Regions from separate parts of the Homo sapiens genome. Here all the other regions are reported to be linked to region 4. The links are microRNA targets in miRTarBase. Many come from high-throughput screens and were not tested one by one. Region 4 holds a microRNA gene; each other region holds the end of a gene's coding sequence.
What was found. The annotated mature microRNA hsa-miR-519c-3p reads AAAGUGCAUCUUUUUAGAGGAU and lies in region 4 at 2,019-2,040, shown strand. An mRNA with a match to its seed (bases 2 to 7 or 8) in the 3' UTR can be bound and repressed. Matches are read on the target gene's strand: a 7mer-m8 pairs with bases 2 to 8, a 7mer-A1 pairs with bases 2 to 7 and ends in A, and an 8mer does both.

Region 1 (4,000 bases), not on the chromosome of region 4:
ACAGGGGAACCTTGGTGTGATGTAGTCCTAGCCATTCTGGCAGATGGCACTGTCCTTCCCACCCTGGTTTTCTACAGAGGGCAGATGGATCAGCCTGCTAACATGCCAGACTCCATATTGCTAGAGGCAAAGGAGAGTGGCTACAGTGATGACGAGATCATGGAGCTGTGGTCAACTCGAGTGTGGCAGAAGCACACAGCTTGCCAGCGCAGCAAAGGCATGCTTGTGATGGACTGTCATCGCACTCACTTGTCAGAAGAGGTACTGGCTATGCTTAGTGCCTCTAGCACTTTGCCTGCAGTGGTCCCAGCAGGCTGTAGCTCCAAAATTCAGCCATTAGATGTATGCATCAAAAGAACTGTCAAGAACTTCCTGCATAAAAAATGGAAGGAACAGGCTCGGGAAATGGCAGATACTGCATGTGATTCTGATGTCCTGCTTCAGCTGGTGCTTGTCTGGCTGGGTGAAGTGCTAGGTGTCATTGGGGACTGTCCAGAGCTAGTTCAGCGCTCCTTCCTGGTGGCTAGTGTTCTGCCTGGCCCCGATGGCAACATTAACTCACCTACAAGAAATGCTGACATGCAGGAGGAGCTAATTGCCTCCCTAGAGGAGCAACTGAAGCTGAGTGGGGAACATTCTGAGTCTTCCACTCCACGACCCAGATCATCTCCTGAAGAGACAATTGAGCCTGAAAGTCTTCACCAGCTCTTTGAGGGTGAAAGTGAGACCGAGTCTTTCTATGGCTTTGAAGAAGCTGACCTAGATCTGATGGAGATTTGAGTGTTGGGGTCATGAGGGGGTGTGGAGTGAGGGTGGGAACATGTGAGGGAGGGTAAAGGGGCTTAGGGAAAAGGGGGCATACCAGGTGGGGTATTTGGTTTCTATTTTTTAATTTTATACCACCACTCCCCCCTGAAGTTGACTTACACTTCCCTGTGGATTTGTGGATTAATTAGGAAAACCAATAGTAATCACGTCTGAGCCAAGGAGCTGGCCCATTGGTCATTCACTTCTGCTAAAAACAGGTTTTTGTGACTTTTTTTTTTTTTAAATTTAAATCACTGTGTTTGGTATTTTTCTGACAAAATTAAGAAAAAGAAAAAAAATTATTTGTGGGCAAATGTTAAATTTTTTTGTTTCCCCTTTTACCTCAATTGTATCATAGTACTGGGTTTTTTTGTTTGTTTTATTGTGTGGCCAATGTCTTTGGGCATGATGCTATCTAATCATTGTTAATGTGAGAACATTTCTGAAGATGGGAAAGACAAATTATGTAGCTCACAAACTGGTTTATTATATATATGGATAAAAAACTTTTTTCATTGTGGTCTTAACACTTTTATATAAAAATGAAAATGGAAAAAAAGTCCCACTGAACTCTCTCTTCCTTCTCCTTTTCTTTCCTTCCCTCTCCAGAGATGTTGGTTTCTACAGCAACCCTAGATATAAAATTGTGGCTTTAAAAATGCATGAAACCACCTTTAATTATCCAGAATGAATAGATTTGTCTTTTCCTCACCACCTTCCCTCCAAAACATGACATAAACAATATTTTTTGCACTTGTGATCCTTGGCCCCTTTCCCCATTCTCAACACCATCCATCCCTCTGGACAAAGGATCATACAGGTGTTATTAGCAAGCAAGAGATACTGAAGCGATCAAACAGTTTTAGGGTGGAAGCCATTCCCAGTTTGAGTCTTCATCCTGTAAGCCCCCAGGGGCAGTCCCTGCTTTACTGAACTTCATCCTGTTAGATGGAGAGCATGCCTGTTTAAGGGATTACTGGTCCTACAGCCAGGAGCTAATTGTTCAAGAAGTGTTGAACTTTAAAAAGACAAGACCACTTGTTGAAATCCAGCGTGCTCTGTGGCTTTCCCCTATTTCTCTTAATACTTAGGGAAGAATCTGACAGGAAGAAGCGCACAGGGGTGTGCACAAAGAAAATGACATGAATCTTTATTTTTCACTGCCAGCTTCAAGGAAAGAAAATTTTTTCTACAATTTGCATGAGGGATTTTTTTAATTGTATGTACTCATGGTTGTAAACCAAAACGTACTGTACCGTACAGAGAAAAGGAGCAAAAAACCAAGTCTTCTGTTTATCCTGAGGCTTTCCACAATGTTCCCCTCCTGTGAGCCAAGGAGGCAAACTGCACAAGCTTGTAAATGGTTCGTCTTTAAAATGTACATAAGTGGAACATTTAATAAAATGAGGGGAAATGGATTTATAAACTTGTTTTTTTTCTAGGTGACCCTGTTTAATAGGCTTTCACAGACTGGGGAATGCTCAAGATGTGATGGGCCTGGTGGTACAGGTGTGACATTTGTTACCACCCATTTCTCCCACCCCACCCTGCTTTTTTGTTTGTTTGTTTTTTCATCCCCCAGCACACTATAATATAGTGAACTGGAAAAGTCCCTTCCAGAAACAGCTTGGCCAGCTTTGTGAACCTTTGACATCTGAAAACAACCAAGGATCCATCTGGGCTTCTCTTCCCCAGCTTTTTGCCTGATGCCATTTTATTGACAGACAATGGACTTTGAAGTCAGCCTTTGCCTTTGAGAAAGTTCAAGAACTATGGTTGGTCACGTCTATCTACAACCTAATCCTACTCTTTGGTAGTCTCTGCAGCAGCCACAGCCTTAGCAGAGCTGGGGTTCCTGTCTTCTGCACACGATTGACTTTCTTGATGGGTAATTTTTTTTAAGATTATACCAACAGTGGATCAGCTGGGTTTTGGCCAGGAAGTTGTCTTTGTGGACTCTGCCTGCATGGCTTAGTAGTAGAAGGAAATTTTTTTTTGGTTTTGTTTTTTATAATTCAGTTTAATCAATAAACATGTATTTATTGACTGTTTCCTGTGTTGAGACTGAATGTGTGGAGGTTTCAGATTGAAAGCTCATTGTTTGGCTTTACAAGTTTGTTGTTAACGGACAATGCAAATGGAGGGATGGTTTTATTTTTTCCTTCAGTTCTCACTGAATTTCTGTACTTTGAATTTGCTGCCTATATTTTCTTTCTCAAGAAGTTTGGAGAGGATTTGTGTCAGAATCGCCTACAGTGTTCATTTTAAAAATTCAAGCTGGGCATGATGGCTCATGCCAGTAATCCCAGCACTTGGGAGGCTGAGGCAGGAGGTTGCTTGAGCTCAGAAATTCAAGGCTGTAGTAGGCTATGATCATGCCACTGCACGCCAGCCTGGGCAACAGAATGAGACTTTTGTCTCTAAAATATTCAGGTTTAGAACCATTCCAGGGATGGCTGATGCCCCAGCTGACTTGAGGGCAACCTGATGCAGAATAGTTCTACTAGATTATTTTTAAAGTGGTATTTTAATGAAAATCACAGCCAACATTAAGAAATCTGTATTTGATAATCCAGTGCAGTGGAGGAAGATTTGGGAGGGGAATTTGAACACAAAAGCCAGTTAGCACACAAAAATTAAGTCTGGCTTCTACAGGAAGCTCTGCTTCTAATACAGCTCCAAATGACGCTAGTGTGTCTTTCTGTGTTGTGCAGAGAGAATTTCTGTGTGTGCTGCAAGACCACAAGGGTTCTCCGACCAGGGAGGGAGATGGCACATGGCAGTACTCAGCAGTTTTGCACTTGGTGTGACCCAGTCAGACAAAAACCACTCAGCAAGCATTTTGAAGAATTTATTTACTTTACAAAAGAAGAGTCTATCTTTGAACTAGCCAAGTTCAAAGTTAAAAGTAGGGCAACTTCAGTTCTGGATAATGCATCTGTATTTCATTCAAAGCCACTAAAAAAGGAAGACAGAATAATAAAATTGTGAAGCATAAAGGGATCAATTCCTAAAAATAGCTGTACTGTCCAACCAAAACTTTCCACCCAGAAAATTTTCCTGGGTGAGCCTCCCAGAAAAGCCCAGCTTAGTGTAAGCCAAAGACCTCCCAAGTCTGTCACCAATTTTTTCCCTATTACTCACCTGATCATGTGGGCAATATCCCAGTTGGTCTCTGTAGACAATGGTCCCT
Region 2 (4,000 bases), not on the chromosome of region 4:
CTACATGGTTCATGGGCTGTTAAAAAAGGTAAGGGAAACCGAGGAAGAAAGAGAAGTTACATCTGTATGTCAATCAAATGCAGAAAAATGGAAAAAAAAATAAACAGGAAAAACATTTACAATATCAAAAGAAAACAAAATCACTTTTTAATTTACTTTTTCTTTGCCAGTTCTGAAGCGAAGCACTTGCTCTTTCCTTATTAACATTAGTCTTTTGAGCAGTTTTTTCCATTGTAAGTACTTTCTAAAAAATCATTTTCACACATTTCTCAGATACATCAATCCTTTCAGCATTCCTCCATGCACACATTATGGTACCCCAGCTCTAAATATAAAAGACTTTTATTATGTCCATTAACCATGGACATATGTGCTCCAAAAGTTTCCTGACACGCAGTCATTTGTGGTTTTTTAATTATAAACAGAAAATATTCACTAGAAAAATAAAACAGCAGCCTATAAATATATCTTTATACATTTGAGTTTTGTTTGTATATGACAAAAGATTGGATAAAGGAAGTGAGCATGCATGTGTTTATATACACACAGAGACACACATACATTCACATGTGCTATTAAATCCATGCACTGTACAGGACTCATATATCTGTAATTGCAGGTACCACTGTCTTGTTTCTAAAATAAGGGTACAAATTTTCCTAAGACTCACCAGGTCTCTCTCTGCATGAAAAATTAAGTGGGAAAGCAGATAATGCCCAGTAAAATAACTGACAAACAAAGTCATATTTATTGAATGCGTTTATTTTAACAACCAAAAAATTCTAACAGCCTAACAATGCACATAAGTTAAAAATTAATTATCACTTAGTGATAACAAAGATAGTTGATTTACATGGAAAAAAGAACATTTACAATATGTTAATCCTTATTCACATTGTTGATACCGCAATAAAACACAATTTGTTTTTTTCATTTCACAAAAAAAAAAAAAGGCGGGAAATTGTGCTTTGTCAAGAGGCACTACAAGAGAAAGTTTCTTCTTCCAAATAGATATTATATGACAGATATTGAATAAATAGACATATATGCATTGTAATTCGCAAAGATCTGGCAAGACCACAGGCTAAAATGCCCACAGATTCACTTAGAACCACTGCAAACTTGGCAGTGAAATTAAAAAATAAAAGGCAAGACTTAGCATTGAAAAATACCTAATAAATTTTTGGTTGAAGTGTAAAAGATACCAAATGCGGATGCCATCGATAGATGAACCACCTTGTAAGAGCTTGGCAAAATCAGTTTCCATTACGTGTACAGAGTGACCTTCAGCAACAGTGTAAGAAGACAATTTGGAAAGAGTAACTCGGAGATCAGGAAGCAGCAACCATGGACTTTCTGATTAAAGCTGCAGCATACTACAGAAATAGGAAGGATGGGGCCAGGGCTAACTGCAAACAACCATCCTTTTGCAAAGGTATATGACGCTTATGTCAAGATAATTTTTAAACATCATTATTTGAAAAAGTACAGGAAAATGTCCCTTTAAAAACTCCAGAGGTTACTGAGCAGCTAGAATTAGCTTGTATTGCAACATGTCTTCTCCCTGTATATTGTAAGTTCTGAGTTAATATCTACACATAGAGGTTTTTTTTTTAACTCCTACCTTTTATACCTTTCAAATATATAAATAGTATTAACAGTTATATTACAATGTTTGTGTAGTAAACAGAAAATAACTTTCAAAGTGATATTGCATGAGGTCTTTGACAAGGTTTTGTGAAAGCACAACTCAAAAAAAAAAAAAAAATCCAACCATGTGGGACTGTTTAATGGCCAGTTTAAAGCATGGATTACGTTCACTAGGCCAGTCCTGAATGTGAGGTCTCCTCTTGCAATTACTGTAAGTAGAAGTGGAAAGTAATGCTTCTGGTGTTTCTCATAGGAAGCCGAAAGAGATCTGGAGTACTATAGTAGATTGCAGCTTTAATGCTCATCCCATTAAACATCCAGTCAGCATTAGTTCTGCTTTACATAAGGTAATTGCGATGTAGGTAACTGGGATAATGTTTTCTTTTAGGATGAGTAAGTGATTCTACTGAAATCGCTTCACATACTCTATTGCCTGGAGCTGCACAACGATTCAAAAACAGTTCTTGTTAGGGCTGTCATCCCAGGAAAAGGGACAGGAGAGATCAGGGACTGAAAATGTTTGATTAGGTAGATGGAATGTGTACGAAGAAGAGGAAGCCCAAAGTGAAGCAGAAATCAGAAATGTCTTTTGGGAGAGGGAAGGATGGAGATTTATTTGAGAGGGAGCCCCTTTAACTGGGCAGCAACTTCTTTTCTAACTTAATATTACACTGAACTATTTTCTAGTAAAAAACAAAAAGACAAAAAAACAGCAACAACAAACAACTTTTAAACGAGCAGGCTTATTAATTTTCAGATTTGAAGCCACAAGCAGGTAAATAAATTTCACAACAAAATGTGGCTCATACTATGAATTCCATATGTCCAATGTCAAAATGTCATTTGATCAAGACTTGCACTAGTGGACAAAGTTTTCTCTGCACTGAATTTCAGTTTTACTTATTTGGAATTCCACAGAAATGCATCTGTTCACTACAGTAATGACAAATTGAATAACGGAACGTAGCAAGTCATTTTATTGAGTCATTTTAAGTGTGCATTGTGTCTTTAAGATTTATTTGACTTGTATCATTTTAATGTGCCCTGATTGTTTTCACTTCACTTTTTTTTTTTTCGGCAGTGTCGTTTATTTTGTTAAATACATACCTCAAAAATTACCCATTAAGCTGCCAGATAGGAAGCCATAGAATTAAAAAAAAAAAATCAGGGACAAACACAAAAAATAAATAGGAATTCAAAAATAGTCACCCCACCCTGAGAGCAGGCCGCAGTTTATCAAAAAGCCAAAGCGACTCACTGTGAAGTGGTTTTTTTAATACATAAACAAGTCTTTTCTTTAAGAACTCATTTCACAGTCTATTCTTTCGGATTGCAAAGTCTCTGTCCCATGCAATTTTAATATATATATGTAAATATAGAGATATATACATATACATATACACACACACTTGTAGCTTCCTTCATTTATTTCATAGTTCTTTTCATCCTGGTACTTGCCTGATGTAACTTCCGTTAAGTGCAAGGATAATGAAGGCAGAGTCTCCTGTGATTATAATGACTATGATCCAGTCATAGAGACGGGATAAAGTGTAACGCTTTAGTGTCTTTGCCAAGGCGATGTCTGATTCGGAAATACTGAACTTATTCAGTCTATAGGTGTATCCTGTGCAACAAAGAAATGTCCAAAAGGGTAAGAAAAACAAAACAGACATAAAAAGACAAAAATAAAGCCAAAAAAACCCAAAAACAAAAACAAAAAACAAACTAACAAAAAACTTTTAAAGAAATGAAAGCAGAAAATCCTTGGACCGATGTATTGCTTTGCCTAGTAGAAGTTCACATTATCTCTGGTCAATTTCGGCAGGTGCTGCCTTGCTTTTGTCAGCATTTTCCTCCTCAGCCTCCACTTTGTACATCTCCTCGGAGCCTTCCTCGCTGTCGTTCTCCTCTGACTCGGTCAGCAGCTCCTCGTCCTTATATTCAGCCACGTCCACCGCGGAGCCCAGGTGCTCTTTCAGCTTCCCGTGGTGCTTCACGTGGTACCGCTGGTTCTGGAAGAACTTGATGATGGTGTGTTTGGGGAGATCCAGCTGAGCCGAAAGAGTGTGGATGGCTTCCTGGTCTGGGTACAGGCCTACATCATGAATAAAGCTTTGGAGGATCCCCAGGGCTTCTAAGGAGATCTTTGTGCGAGACCGGGGCTTTTTGGCACAACTGTCTTCAGTCGGAGGAGGTGGGGGAGGCGCTTCTTCTCTGGGAGGGGAACTCTCCTTGGCTGGCTGAGACTGCTGTCTATGAAGTACCTGATAATTAAGAGAGAAAAAAATGAACACTGGACTCATGATTTTACCTTTCCAAAACCATCAGCCCTCTGAAATATGTGTTATCT
Region 3 (4,000 bases), not on the chromosome of region 4:
AAAATACATTTTTCCACATACAAAAGAGAGAAAAAAACAAAGACATGTGGCGGGTGGCGAGGGGAGGCCCAATCCCAACACCCTACAAGGTTCCATGGAATGGAGAAGGAACAAAAAAATCCCCAATTATTTTGGGGTAAGATGTGCCCCAGAAAAGGTGAAATCTATGCAATAAAACCCAGGTTTTCTTCAAATCTAGCATCTAGGATTTCTATCAGAGTTTCAAATAATCAGAATTTCTATCAGAATTTCTACCCTGAGGTGACACCTACTAACTGTAGGTTCTTTCATTAAAAATGAAGACATCTTTCACCAGAATGTATCAAGCTATAAAACTGGCTTCAGAGCCTACACTTAGCCAGAGTGGAAAAAAAAAATAGTGCATATTTTCGACAGCAATTTTGAATTGATGCTTGAGGTCTCAATCCACCAGCACCCAGATATCATGTTACCTCCCTCAGTTGAATACAAGTTAAAATGATGATCTTATCGAGATCTCAATAGAGCACAGTGCCCTTCATGTTTCGGGTAAGAGGGTGGGAGGAGGAATGAAGCGGGTATTACACCCAGCCCAGTGACAGCTTAAGCCTTAACATGCGGGCATCTTACAATGACCATAAACAAGGGAGGGGCCAAGGCAGGGCTGGCGATCATTAGCTTTGCGCACAGAATGCCATGTTTTCCCCTGGCCAACATAAGCAAAGCTGTTTTAGTACCTAAACGTGGTATAGCCAAATGCACAAAAGGAAAGAAGATAGAGATGACCTCCCGAGTTATTTATACCTTGTGCTAAAATAGATTCATCTACAAGTATCTAAATGACAAAACTAGAATGATTTCAACCCAGTAATCCTGTGTTCCAATGTGCATGGATAAAGATTTGATCTAGGCCCAGCGCGGTGGCTCACGCCTGTAATCCCAGCACTTTGGGAGGCCGAGGCGGGCGGATCACGAGGTCAGGAGATCGAGACCATCCTGGCTAACACGGTGAAACCCCGTCTCTACTAAAAATATAAAAAATTAGCCGGGCATGATGGTGGGCGCCTGTAGTCCCGGCTACTTGGGAGGCTGAGGTAGGAGAATGGCGTGAACCCAGGAGGCGGAGCTTGCAGTGAGCCGAGATGGTGCCACTGCACTCCAGCCTGGTTGACAGTGAGACTCCATCTCAAAAAAAAAAAGATTCGATCCAGCAAATAATTTTTTTTGAGACGGAGTCTCACTCTGTTGCTGAGGCTAGAGTGTGGTGGTATGATCTCAGCTGACTGCAACCTCCGCCTCCCATGTTCAAGCGATTCTCCAGCCTCAGCCTCCCAAGTAGCTGGGATCACAGGCGCCCACCACCAGGCCTGGCTAATTTTTGTATTTTTAGTAGAGACGGGGTTTCACTCTGTTGGCCGGGCTGGTCTCAAACTCCTGACCTCAGGTGATCCACCTGCCTTGGCCTCCCAAAGTGTTGGGATTATAGGGGTGAGCCACCCTGCCCAGCCTGCTCCAGCAAATCTTAAATATCCATGCACACTGAATAAACATGCACCTGAAACAGGTGCACGTTTCAGGAAGTGAATGGAACTCTCCAGGAGAGTTTGGGTCCCATCATGTGTACCTTAGAAACAGAAGTCTCAAAAGTCTCAACAACATCCACAAAAACATCTGCATCTGTTTTCCAGATACTTGCAACCAAAAATAAAACTTCACAGGAACACTACACAAGAAGTGGTAGACAGCTAAATCTTCTCCAAACTGAGACCTGGACCATAAGGTCTTGGTTGTAGCAGGTCTGGCAGGGGTTATCTATAAACCTGCACGCAGGGCACTGTGAGCGGGTTGCCAGGGTACATCTGTGGCCAGGTAAGGGCCACAGAGACAGTCGTGATCCCCAGCAGCTTCAAAGCTGCAAAATGCTGGGCTTTTTTTTTTTTTTTTAAGATGAAGTCTTGCTCTGTTGCCTAGGCTGGAGTGCAGTGGCGTGATCTCGGCTCACCGCAACCTCCACCTCCCAGGTTCAAGCAATTCTCCTGCCTCAGCCTCCTGAGTAGCTGGACTACAGGCACCCACCACCATGCCTGACTAATTTTTGTATTTTTAGTAGAGACGGGGGTTTCACCATGTTGGCCAGGCTGGTCTTGAACTCCTGACCTCAGGTGATCCATACTCCTCGGCCTCCCAAAGCGCTGGGATTACAGGCATCAGCCACTGCGCCTGGCCTAGGGCTTTCTTTTTTAAAAAACAAGTCCTAACAAAAGGGGGTTTCTACCAGCCCCTGAGCCACACCTTCTGAAACTCCCTTGCCCAGGATCCCCACAGCTGTCCACCTCGCAAGTCCCACTCTCTGCCCACAGAGACTGCCTAAAAGGAGGACACAACAGATTTCAGATAAAAAGCACCTGTGTATCGTAAATATTTCAGGAAAAAGAATTCAGATCTTTTCAAAGGCTTGCTTATTGCTGCTAATTGTTCCTGAGGATCTTTCTAAGCAGCAATATACTTGAGAATATTAGCTGCTACTGTTTGTTTTCCCTCTAAGGTCCTGAGGAAATCAAAAGAAAAAAAAAAAAACCCTCAAGGGTATAGCTTTTGTATATAGCCCTAGTGAGCAAACTGCAAATTGGGACATGCAGTAGATTCTGGAGCAATCTCCAATCCTTACCAGGTACTTCCTGGCATCAAATCCCCAGGACATTTCTTGGCCCCTCCTTGCATTTTCCGTTTCAAAATGTTGAGGTTAAAATACATCGAAGCACAGAGGGAAGAAAATCTCAGGTCTTCTAGAAATGGCGATGTCTTCATTTAAAAATAGGACTGATGGGGGCTTGGCAGGGGTCTCTAGGATCCAAAAGAGGTTGAGTTGCATCCTGCAGCCCAACTGTCCACATTTAGAAGTGACAACATTCATGAACTAAGTCAACATCCACCAAAAATAACATGAAATAAAGCTCACAGTTTGGGAACATGAAAATAACGCACACAGACCTCACCCACCAATCCCTAAGCTGTGAAAACAAACGCTCGCATTTAAACTTTTCTCAAATGTCAAATTAGCATATTCTTCCCCTCCATGTAAAGTTTTAATAAACTTGACTCAATCTGCCTTTATTAAAAAACCTTACAAAAGATGTATTTAAATGCTTGAAAAAATTAACTTTATGCTCTATGCACAGATAAATTTCTCTTACTGTACAACTAAATATGGTTATATCCTTTGTTTAAAAAATATTTTTTCCCCCACTAATTACACTTCGTGTGTAGTTCCACGTCAATGATCTTTCCGCTCTTCTGGGAATGTGTCCTAAGAGCTGCCGGGTGGGTGGAAATAGCCCTACACAGCGCCACTTTCTTGCTCAGTCGTGTTTATTAAGATTGTTTGGGGTTTGGGGTTTTTTTCCTCCGTTTTCGTTTTCTGAGACAGCGTGCTGGTAACTGTGGACCCGCCCGGCCGGCTGACCTTCACTTGTCCTTGGAGCGGTCCAGGCTCTCGAGCACCCGGTTGAGACGGATGTTGAGCAGTCTGACCTGCTTCTCCAGGTGCTCCAGCTTCTCCTCCACGCTGGGGTTGCTGGGGTTGCTGGGGCCGCTGGGACTGCTTCGCCAGTAGAAGCCCATGGGCCCGGTCATGAAGTAGACGGCCACCACGAAGCACAGCGGCAGCACCGCGTTCTCCGGCTCGCCCTCGTACTTGTGCAGGATGTACACGCAGGACATGGAAAACAGGACGACCCGCACGATCCAGAAGAAGCGGCCGAACACCACGTGCAGGACGCTGAAAGTGAAGCCCAGGGTCAGGGACAAGAACCAGTAGGCCAGGAGGACGACGCCGACCAGCAGGAGCGCGCGGGCCGGGCTGCTGGACACCGAGGCTGGGCTGAAATACTGGGACAGGTTGGAGACTGCGGGACAGAAAAGAGGAACAGGGCTCGTTACGCAGGGGCCAGGGGTTTCTTAACAAGCTAGAATTGGATAGTTGAGCTGGCCTGTGGGGCTTAAAAGGCCTTTGCAACAACCA
Region 4 (4,249 bases):
GCACTACAGCCTGGGCAACAAAGTGAGACTTGTTTCAAAAAAAAAAAAAAAATTTATTGAGGAGCTTTTATGGCCTAGCCTGTGTTCTATCCTGGAGAATGTGTGTACAACAGTGTATATTCTTAAACATCATCTTAGATTCCATTTTGGATGCTTGCATGGGGACTGTGTGTCCCTGTACTGGGACTTATGTGAACACTTGGCTTCAAATCCATTGCTGTTCTCTAGAAATCCAGCCCAATTCTCATGGTTAAATATAAGGTATGTGTGGTAGGCATTGCTTTTTCTCTTTGGGGACAGAACTCAGGAGGATTGTCTCTTGATGAACAAGGCTAACCTGCTGAGCCTTTGAAGCAAGGAACTGGAGATGGTCCTTTTAGGGGTTTATATTCTGGATTCCAGAAAACATGCAGAGAGAGTCAATAAATGTATCTTTATTTTTGTGTCCATTTTAACCAGGTGAGGAAAATTCCGTCAAAAAACCCAGACTTTTGGAGCGAGAAGATCTCATGCAGTCATTCTCCAAAAGAAAGCACTTTCTGTTGTCTGAAAGCAGAGTGCCTTCTTTTGGAGCGTTACTGTTTGAGAAAAACCACGTTGAAGTTGATGCTGATCTTGGTAACACATTTGCAGAGCGTGCTTATCATCAGACTTGCATGATGTTGGGGTTCTGTTTTTGTTTAGTTGTTTTGCATCATGGGGTCTCTGTTGCCCAGGCTGGAGTGCGGTGGCGCTTCCAACCTAGATCTCTTGGGCTCAAGTGGTCCCGTGCTTGCTTTTTTTTTTTTTCTTGAAACAGAGTCTCTGTCTCTGGCCCAGGCTTGAGCGCAGTGGCATGTTATCTGCTCACTGCAACCTCTCCTCCCAAGTAGATGGGATTACAGGTGCACGTGCCACGACGCCTGGCTAATATTTGCATTTTTAGCAGAGATGCAGTTTCATCATGATGGCCAGGTTAGTCTCCAACTCCTGACCTCAGGTGATCCGCCTGCCTCAGCCTCCCAAAATGCTGAGATTATAGGTGTAAGCCACCCAGCCTAGCCTCCAATTTTTTTTAATGTGTGCTGCCAATGCAAGCACATATGTGTAGGAATTATTTTTCATGTGAGCACATAGTATATGGAACTTAATTTTTATTGATGTACGGTCTCAAAAATATATATTTTATCATATTCTTATTATACATGTAACATAGTCATATACACACAAAACACTCTTCTATACACAGAGAATACTCTCGTATCACTTTGGGTAATTTTTTGTTTGTGTGTGTATGTTTTTGTTTTTTTTTTAGATAAGGTCTGGGTCTGTCACCCAGGCTAGAGTGCAGTGGTGCCATCTCAGCTTATTGCAACCTCCACCTGCCACTTCAGCCTCTTGAGTAGCTGTCTACAGGCGCACACCACCACGCCCGGCTAACTTTTCTGTTTTCTCTACACATGAGGTATCACCATGTTGCCCAGGCTGGTCTCAAACTCTTGAACTCAAGTGATACTCCTGCCTCAGCCTCCTAAAGGGCTGGGTTTAGAGGTGTGAGCCACCACACCTCACCTGTACCTGTGTGTTTCTGCTCATTTTATTGAGGAGCTTTTACAGCCTGGCCTGTGGTCTCTCCTGGAGGGTGTTTGTGTGTGTGACAATGCATATTCTTCAACATCGTAGATTCCATTTTGGATGCCCCCGTCGGGACTGTGTGTCACTGTACTGGAACTCGAGTGAACACTTAGCTCAAAATCTATTGCTGTTCTCTAGAATCCAGCCCAATTCTCATGGTTAAATATAAGGTATGTATAGTCGGCATTGCTTTTTGAAACAAGGAACTGGAGATGGCCCTGATAGGGGTTTATGTTCTGGATTCCAGAAATCATGCAAACAGGGCCAATAAATGCATCTTTATTTTTGTGTCCATTTTAACCTGGTCAAGGAAAATTCCAACAAAAAATCAATGGTGCTGGAGCAAGAAGATCTCAGCCTGTGACCCTCTAGAGGGAAGCGCTTTCTGTTGTCTGAAAGAAAAGAAAGTGCATCTTTTTAGAGGATTACAGTTTGAGAAAAGCAACGTTAACGTTCATGCTGATCTCGGCAATACATTTGCAGAGCGTGCTTATCATCAGACTTGGATGAGGGTGGGCTTTTGTTCCTGGTTTGTTTGTTTTCTAAGACGGGGTCTCTTTTGCCCAGGCTGGAGAGCAGTGGCACTTCCAACCTAGCTCTCTTGGGCTCAGGTGGTCCTCTTTGCAGGGTCACGATCTCTGCTCACTACAATCTCCCCTTCCCGGGTTGAAGTGGTTCTCCCATCTCAGTCTCCTGTGTTGCTGGGAGTACAGGCCCATGCCACCACGCCCGGCTAATTTTTGTATTTTTAGCAGAGATGGGGTTTCACCGTGTTGACCAGGATGGTCTCCATCTCCTGACCTCGTAATCCACCTGCCTCGGCCTCCCAAAGTGCTGGGTTTACAGTCATGAACCACTGCACCCGGCCTTTGATCTTAATTTTCAATATGAGACCCATCATGAATTTGGGCATCACCTCTGCACAGGGGCCATGGTGATCTCTGTCACTCCATTCATTTCTTATGTGTGGAGCAAACATTTATGTGTAGGAGTAATTCTTTATGTGAGCATACAGTATATGGAACTTTCTTTTTTTTTGAGATAGGGTCTGGAAAATAAATGATGTACAGCCAGGCGCATGAGTATATGAGCAGTTTTTGTGTGTATACGACATGAGCGGTGGCTCATGCCTGCAATATCAACACTTTGGCAGGTTGAGGCGAGTGGATCACTTGAGGTCAGGAGTTTGAGACCAGCCTGACCAACATGGTGAAACCCTGTCTCTACTAAAAATACAAAAAATTAGCCAGCTATGGTGGCGCACGCCTGTATTCCCATCTGCTGGGGAAGTTGAGGGAGGAGAATCACTTGAACGGACAGATGGAGGTTGCAGTGAGCCAAGATCACGCCACCACACTCCAGCCTGGGCGAGAGAATAAGACTGTCTCAAAAAAAAAATATATATATACATATATATTTATATAGAGAGAGAGACTCTGTCTCAAAAAAAAAAATATATATATGGGTGTGTTTGTGTGTATATATATATTATATATGATGTATATTTCATCATATAGCCATATATATAATTATATACACAAAAAATACTCTTCTACACACAGAGATGACTGATATCACTTTGGGGTGGTTTTTGCTTGTGTGTTCTTTTAAATTTTTTTTTGCAACAAGATCTGGCTCAGTCGCCCAGGTTGGAGTGCAGTGTTTCAGTCTTGGCTCACTGCAACCTTCGCCTCCCACCCCAGCCTCCTGAATTAGTGTCTACAGGCATGTACCACCACACCTGGCCTACATTTGTATTTTTTTACAGACAGGGTTTCACCGTGTTGTACACGCTGGTCTTGAGCTCCTGAGCTCAAGTGAATCTCCTGCCTTGGCCTCCTGATGTGCTGGGATTAGAGGTATGAGCCACCACACCCAACTGGTACTTGTGTATTCCTGTTCAAATTTTATTGAGGAGCTTTTACCACCTAGCCTGTGGTCTATCCTGGAGGATGTTTGTGTGTGCGACAATGTATATAGTTCAACATCTTAGATCACATTTTGGATGTTTCCAATGGGACTGTGTGTCTCCGCACTGGAACTCAAATGAACACTTGGCTCAGAATCCATTTGCTGTTCTCTGGAAATCCAGTCCAATTCTCTTGGTTAAGTATAAGGTATGTCTAGTAGGCATTGCTTTTTCTGTTTGAGAACAAAACTCGGGAGGATTGTCCCTTGATGAACAAGGCTAACCTGCTGAGCCTTTGAAGCAAGGAACTGGAGATGGTCCTTTTCAGGCGTTTTATTCTGGATTCCAGAAAACATGCAAACAGGGCCACTAAATGCATCTTTATTTTTCTGTCCATTTAAACCTGGTCAAAGAAAATTCCAACACGAAACCCAGAGTGCTGGAGCAAGAAGATCTCAAGCTATGAGTCTACAAAGGAAAGCGCTTTCTGTTGTCAGAAAGAAGAGAAAGCGCTTCCCTTTTGAGGGTTACGGTTTGAGAAAAGCAGTGTTGAAGTTGATGCTGATCTTGGTAATACATTTGCAGAGCATGCTTATCATCAGACTTGGATGATAGCGGGGTTATGTTTTGGTTTTGTGTTTTTCTAAGACAGGGTCTCCGTTGCCCAGGCTGGAGTGCGGTGGCACTTCCAACCTAGCTCTCTTGGGCTCAAGTGATCCTCTTTTT

Region 1: miRTarBase lists POGZ as a target of hsa-miR-519c-3p. Seed matches in the 3' UTR shown: 7mer-m8 at 1,557-1,563.
Region 2: the mRNA of SATB2 is a reported target of hsa-miR-519c-3p. Seed matches in the 3' UTR shown: 8mer at 3,125-3,132.
Region 3: the mRNA of BRI3BP is a reported target of hsa-miR-519c-3p. The part of its 3' UTR that is shown has no 7-base or 8-base seed match.

What each region holds. Positions count from the first base shown.
Region 1 is chr1:151,401,582-151,405,581 of GRCh38, reverse strand. It overlaps POGZ (pogo transposable element derived with ZNF domain), which reads left to right. Exons shown (of 19, transcript NM_015100.4): 19 at 1-2,858. The coding sequence ends at 780. It overlaps PSMB4 (proteasome 20S subunit beta 4), which reads right to left. Exons shown (of 7, transcript NM_002796.3): 6 at 3,952-4,000; 7 at 3,645-3,765. The coding sequence ends at 3,753. Among named protein-coding and RNA genes, the nearest start is that of PSMB4, 4.0 kb to the right of the region's middle.
Region 2 is chr2:199,268,759-199,272,758 of GRCh38, forward strand. It overlaps SATB2 (SATB homeobox 2), which reads right to left. Exons shown (of 11, transcript NM_001172509.2): 11 at 747-3,914. The coding sequence ends at 3,453. Among named protein-coding and RNA genes, the nearest start is that of SATB2, 190 kb to the right of the region's middle. RefSeq lists an enhancer at 3,127-4,000.
Region 3 is chr12:125,024,875-125,028,874 of GRCh38, reverse strand. BRI3BP (BRI3 binding protein) reads right to left here. Exons shown (of 3, transcript NM_080626.6): 3 at 1-3,884. The coding sequence ends at 3,445. It overlaps THRIL (TNF and HNRNPL related immunoregulatory long non-coding RNA), which reads left to right and starts at 1,452. Exons shown (of 1, transcript NR_110375.1): 1 at 1,452-3,432.
Region 4 is chr19:53,684,504-53,688,752 of GRCh38, forward strand. It overlaps MIR519C (microRNA 519c), which reads left to right and starts at 1,966; the gene lies at 1,966-2,052. It overlaps MIR515-2 (microRNA 515-2), which reads left to right and starts at 506; the gene lies at 506-588. MIR1283-1 (microRNA 1283-1) reads left to right here and starts at 3,978; the gene lies at 3,978-4,064. The region is part of intron 2 of LOC107985342 (a long non-coding RNA gene); the gene reads left to right.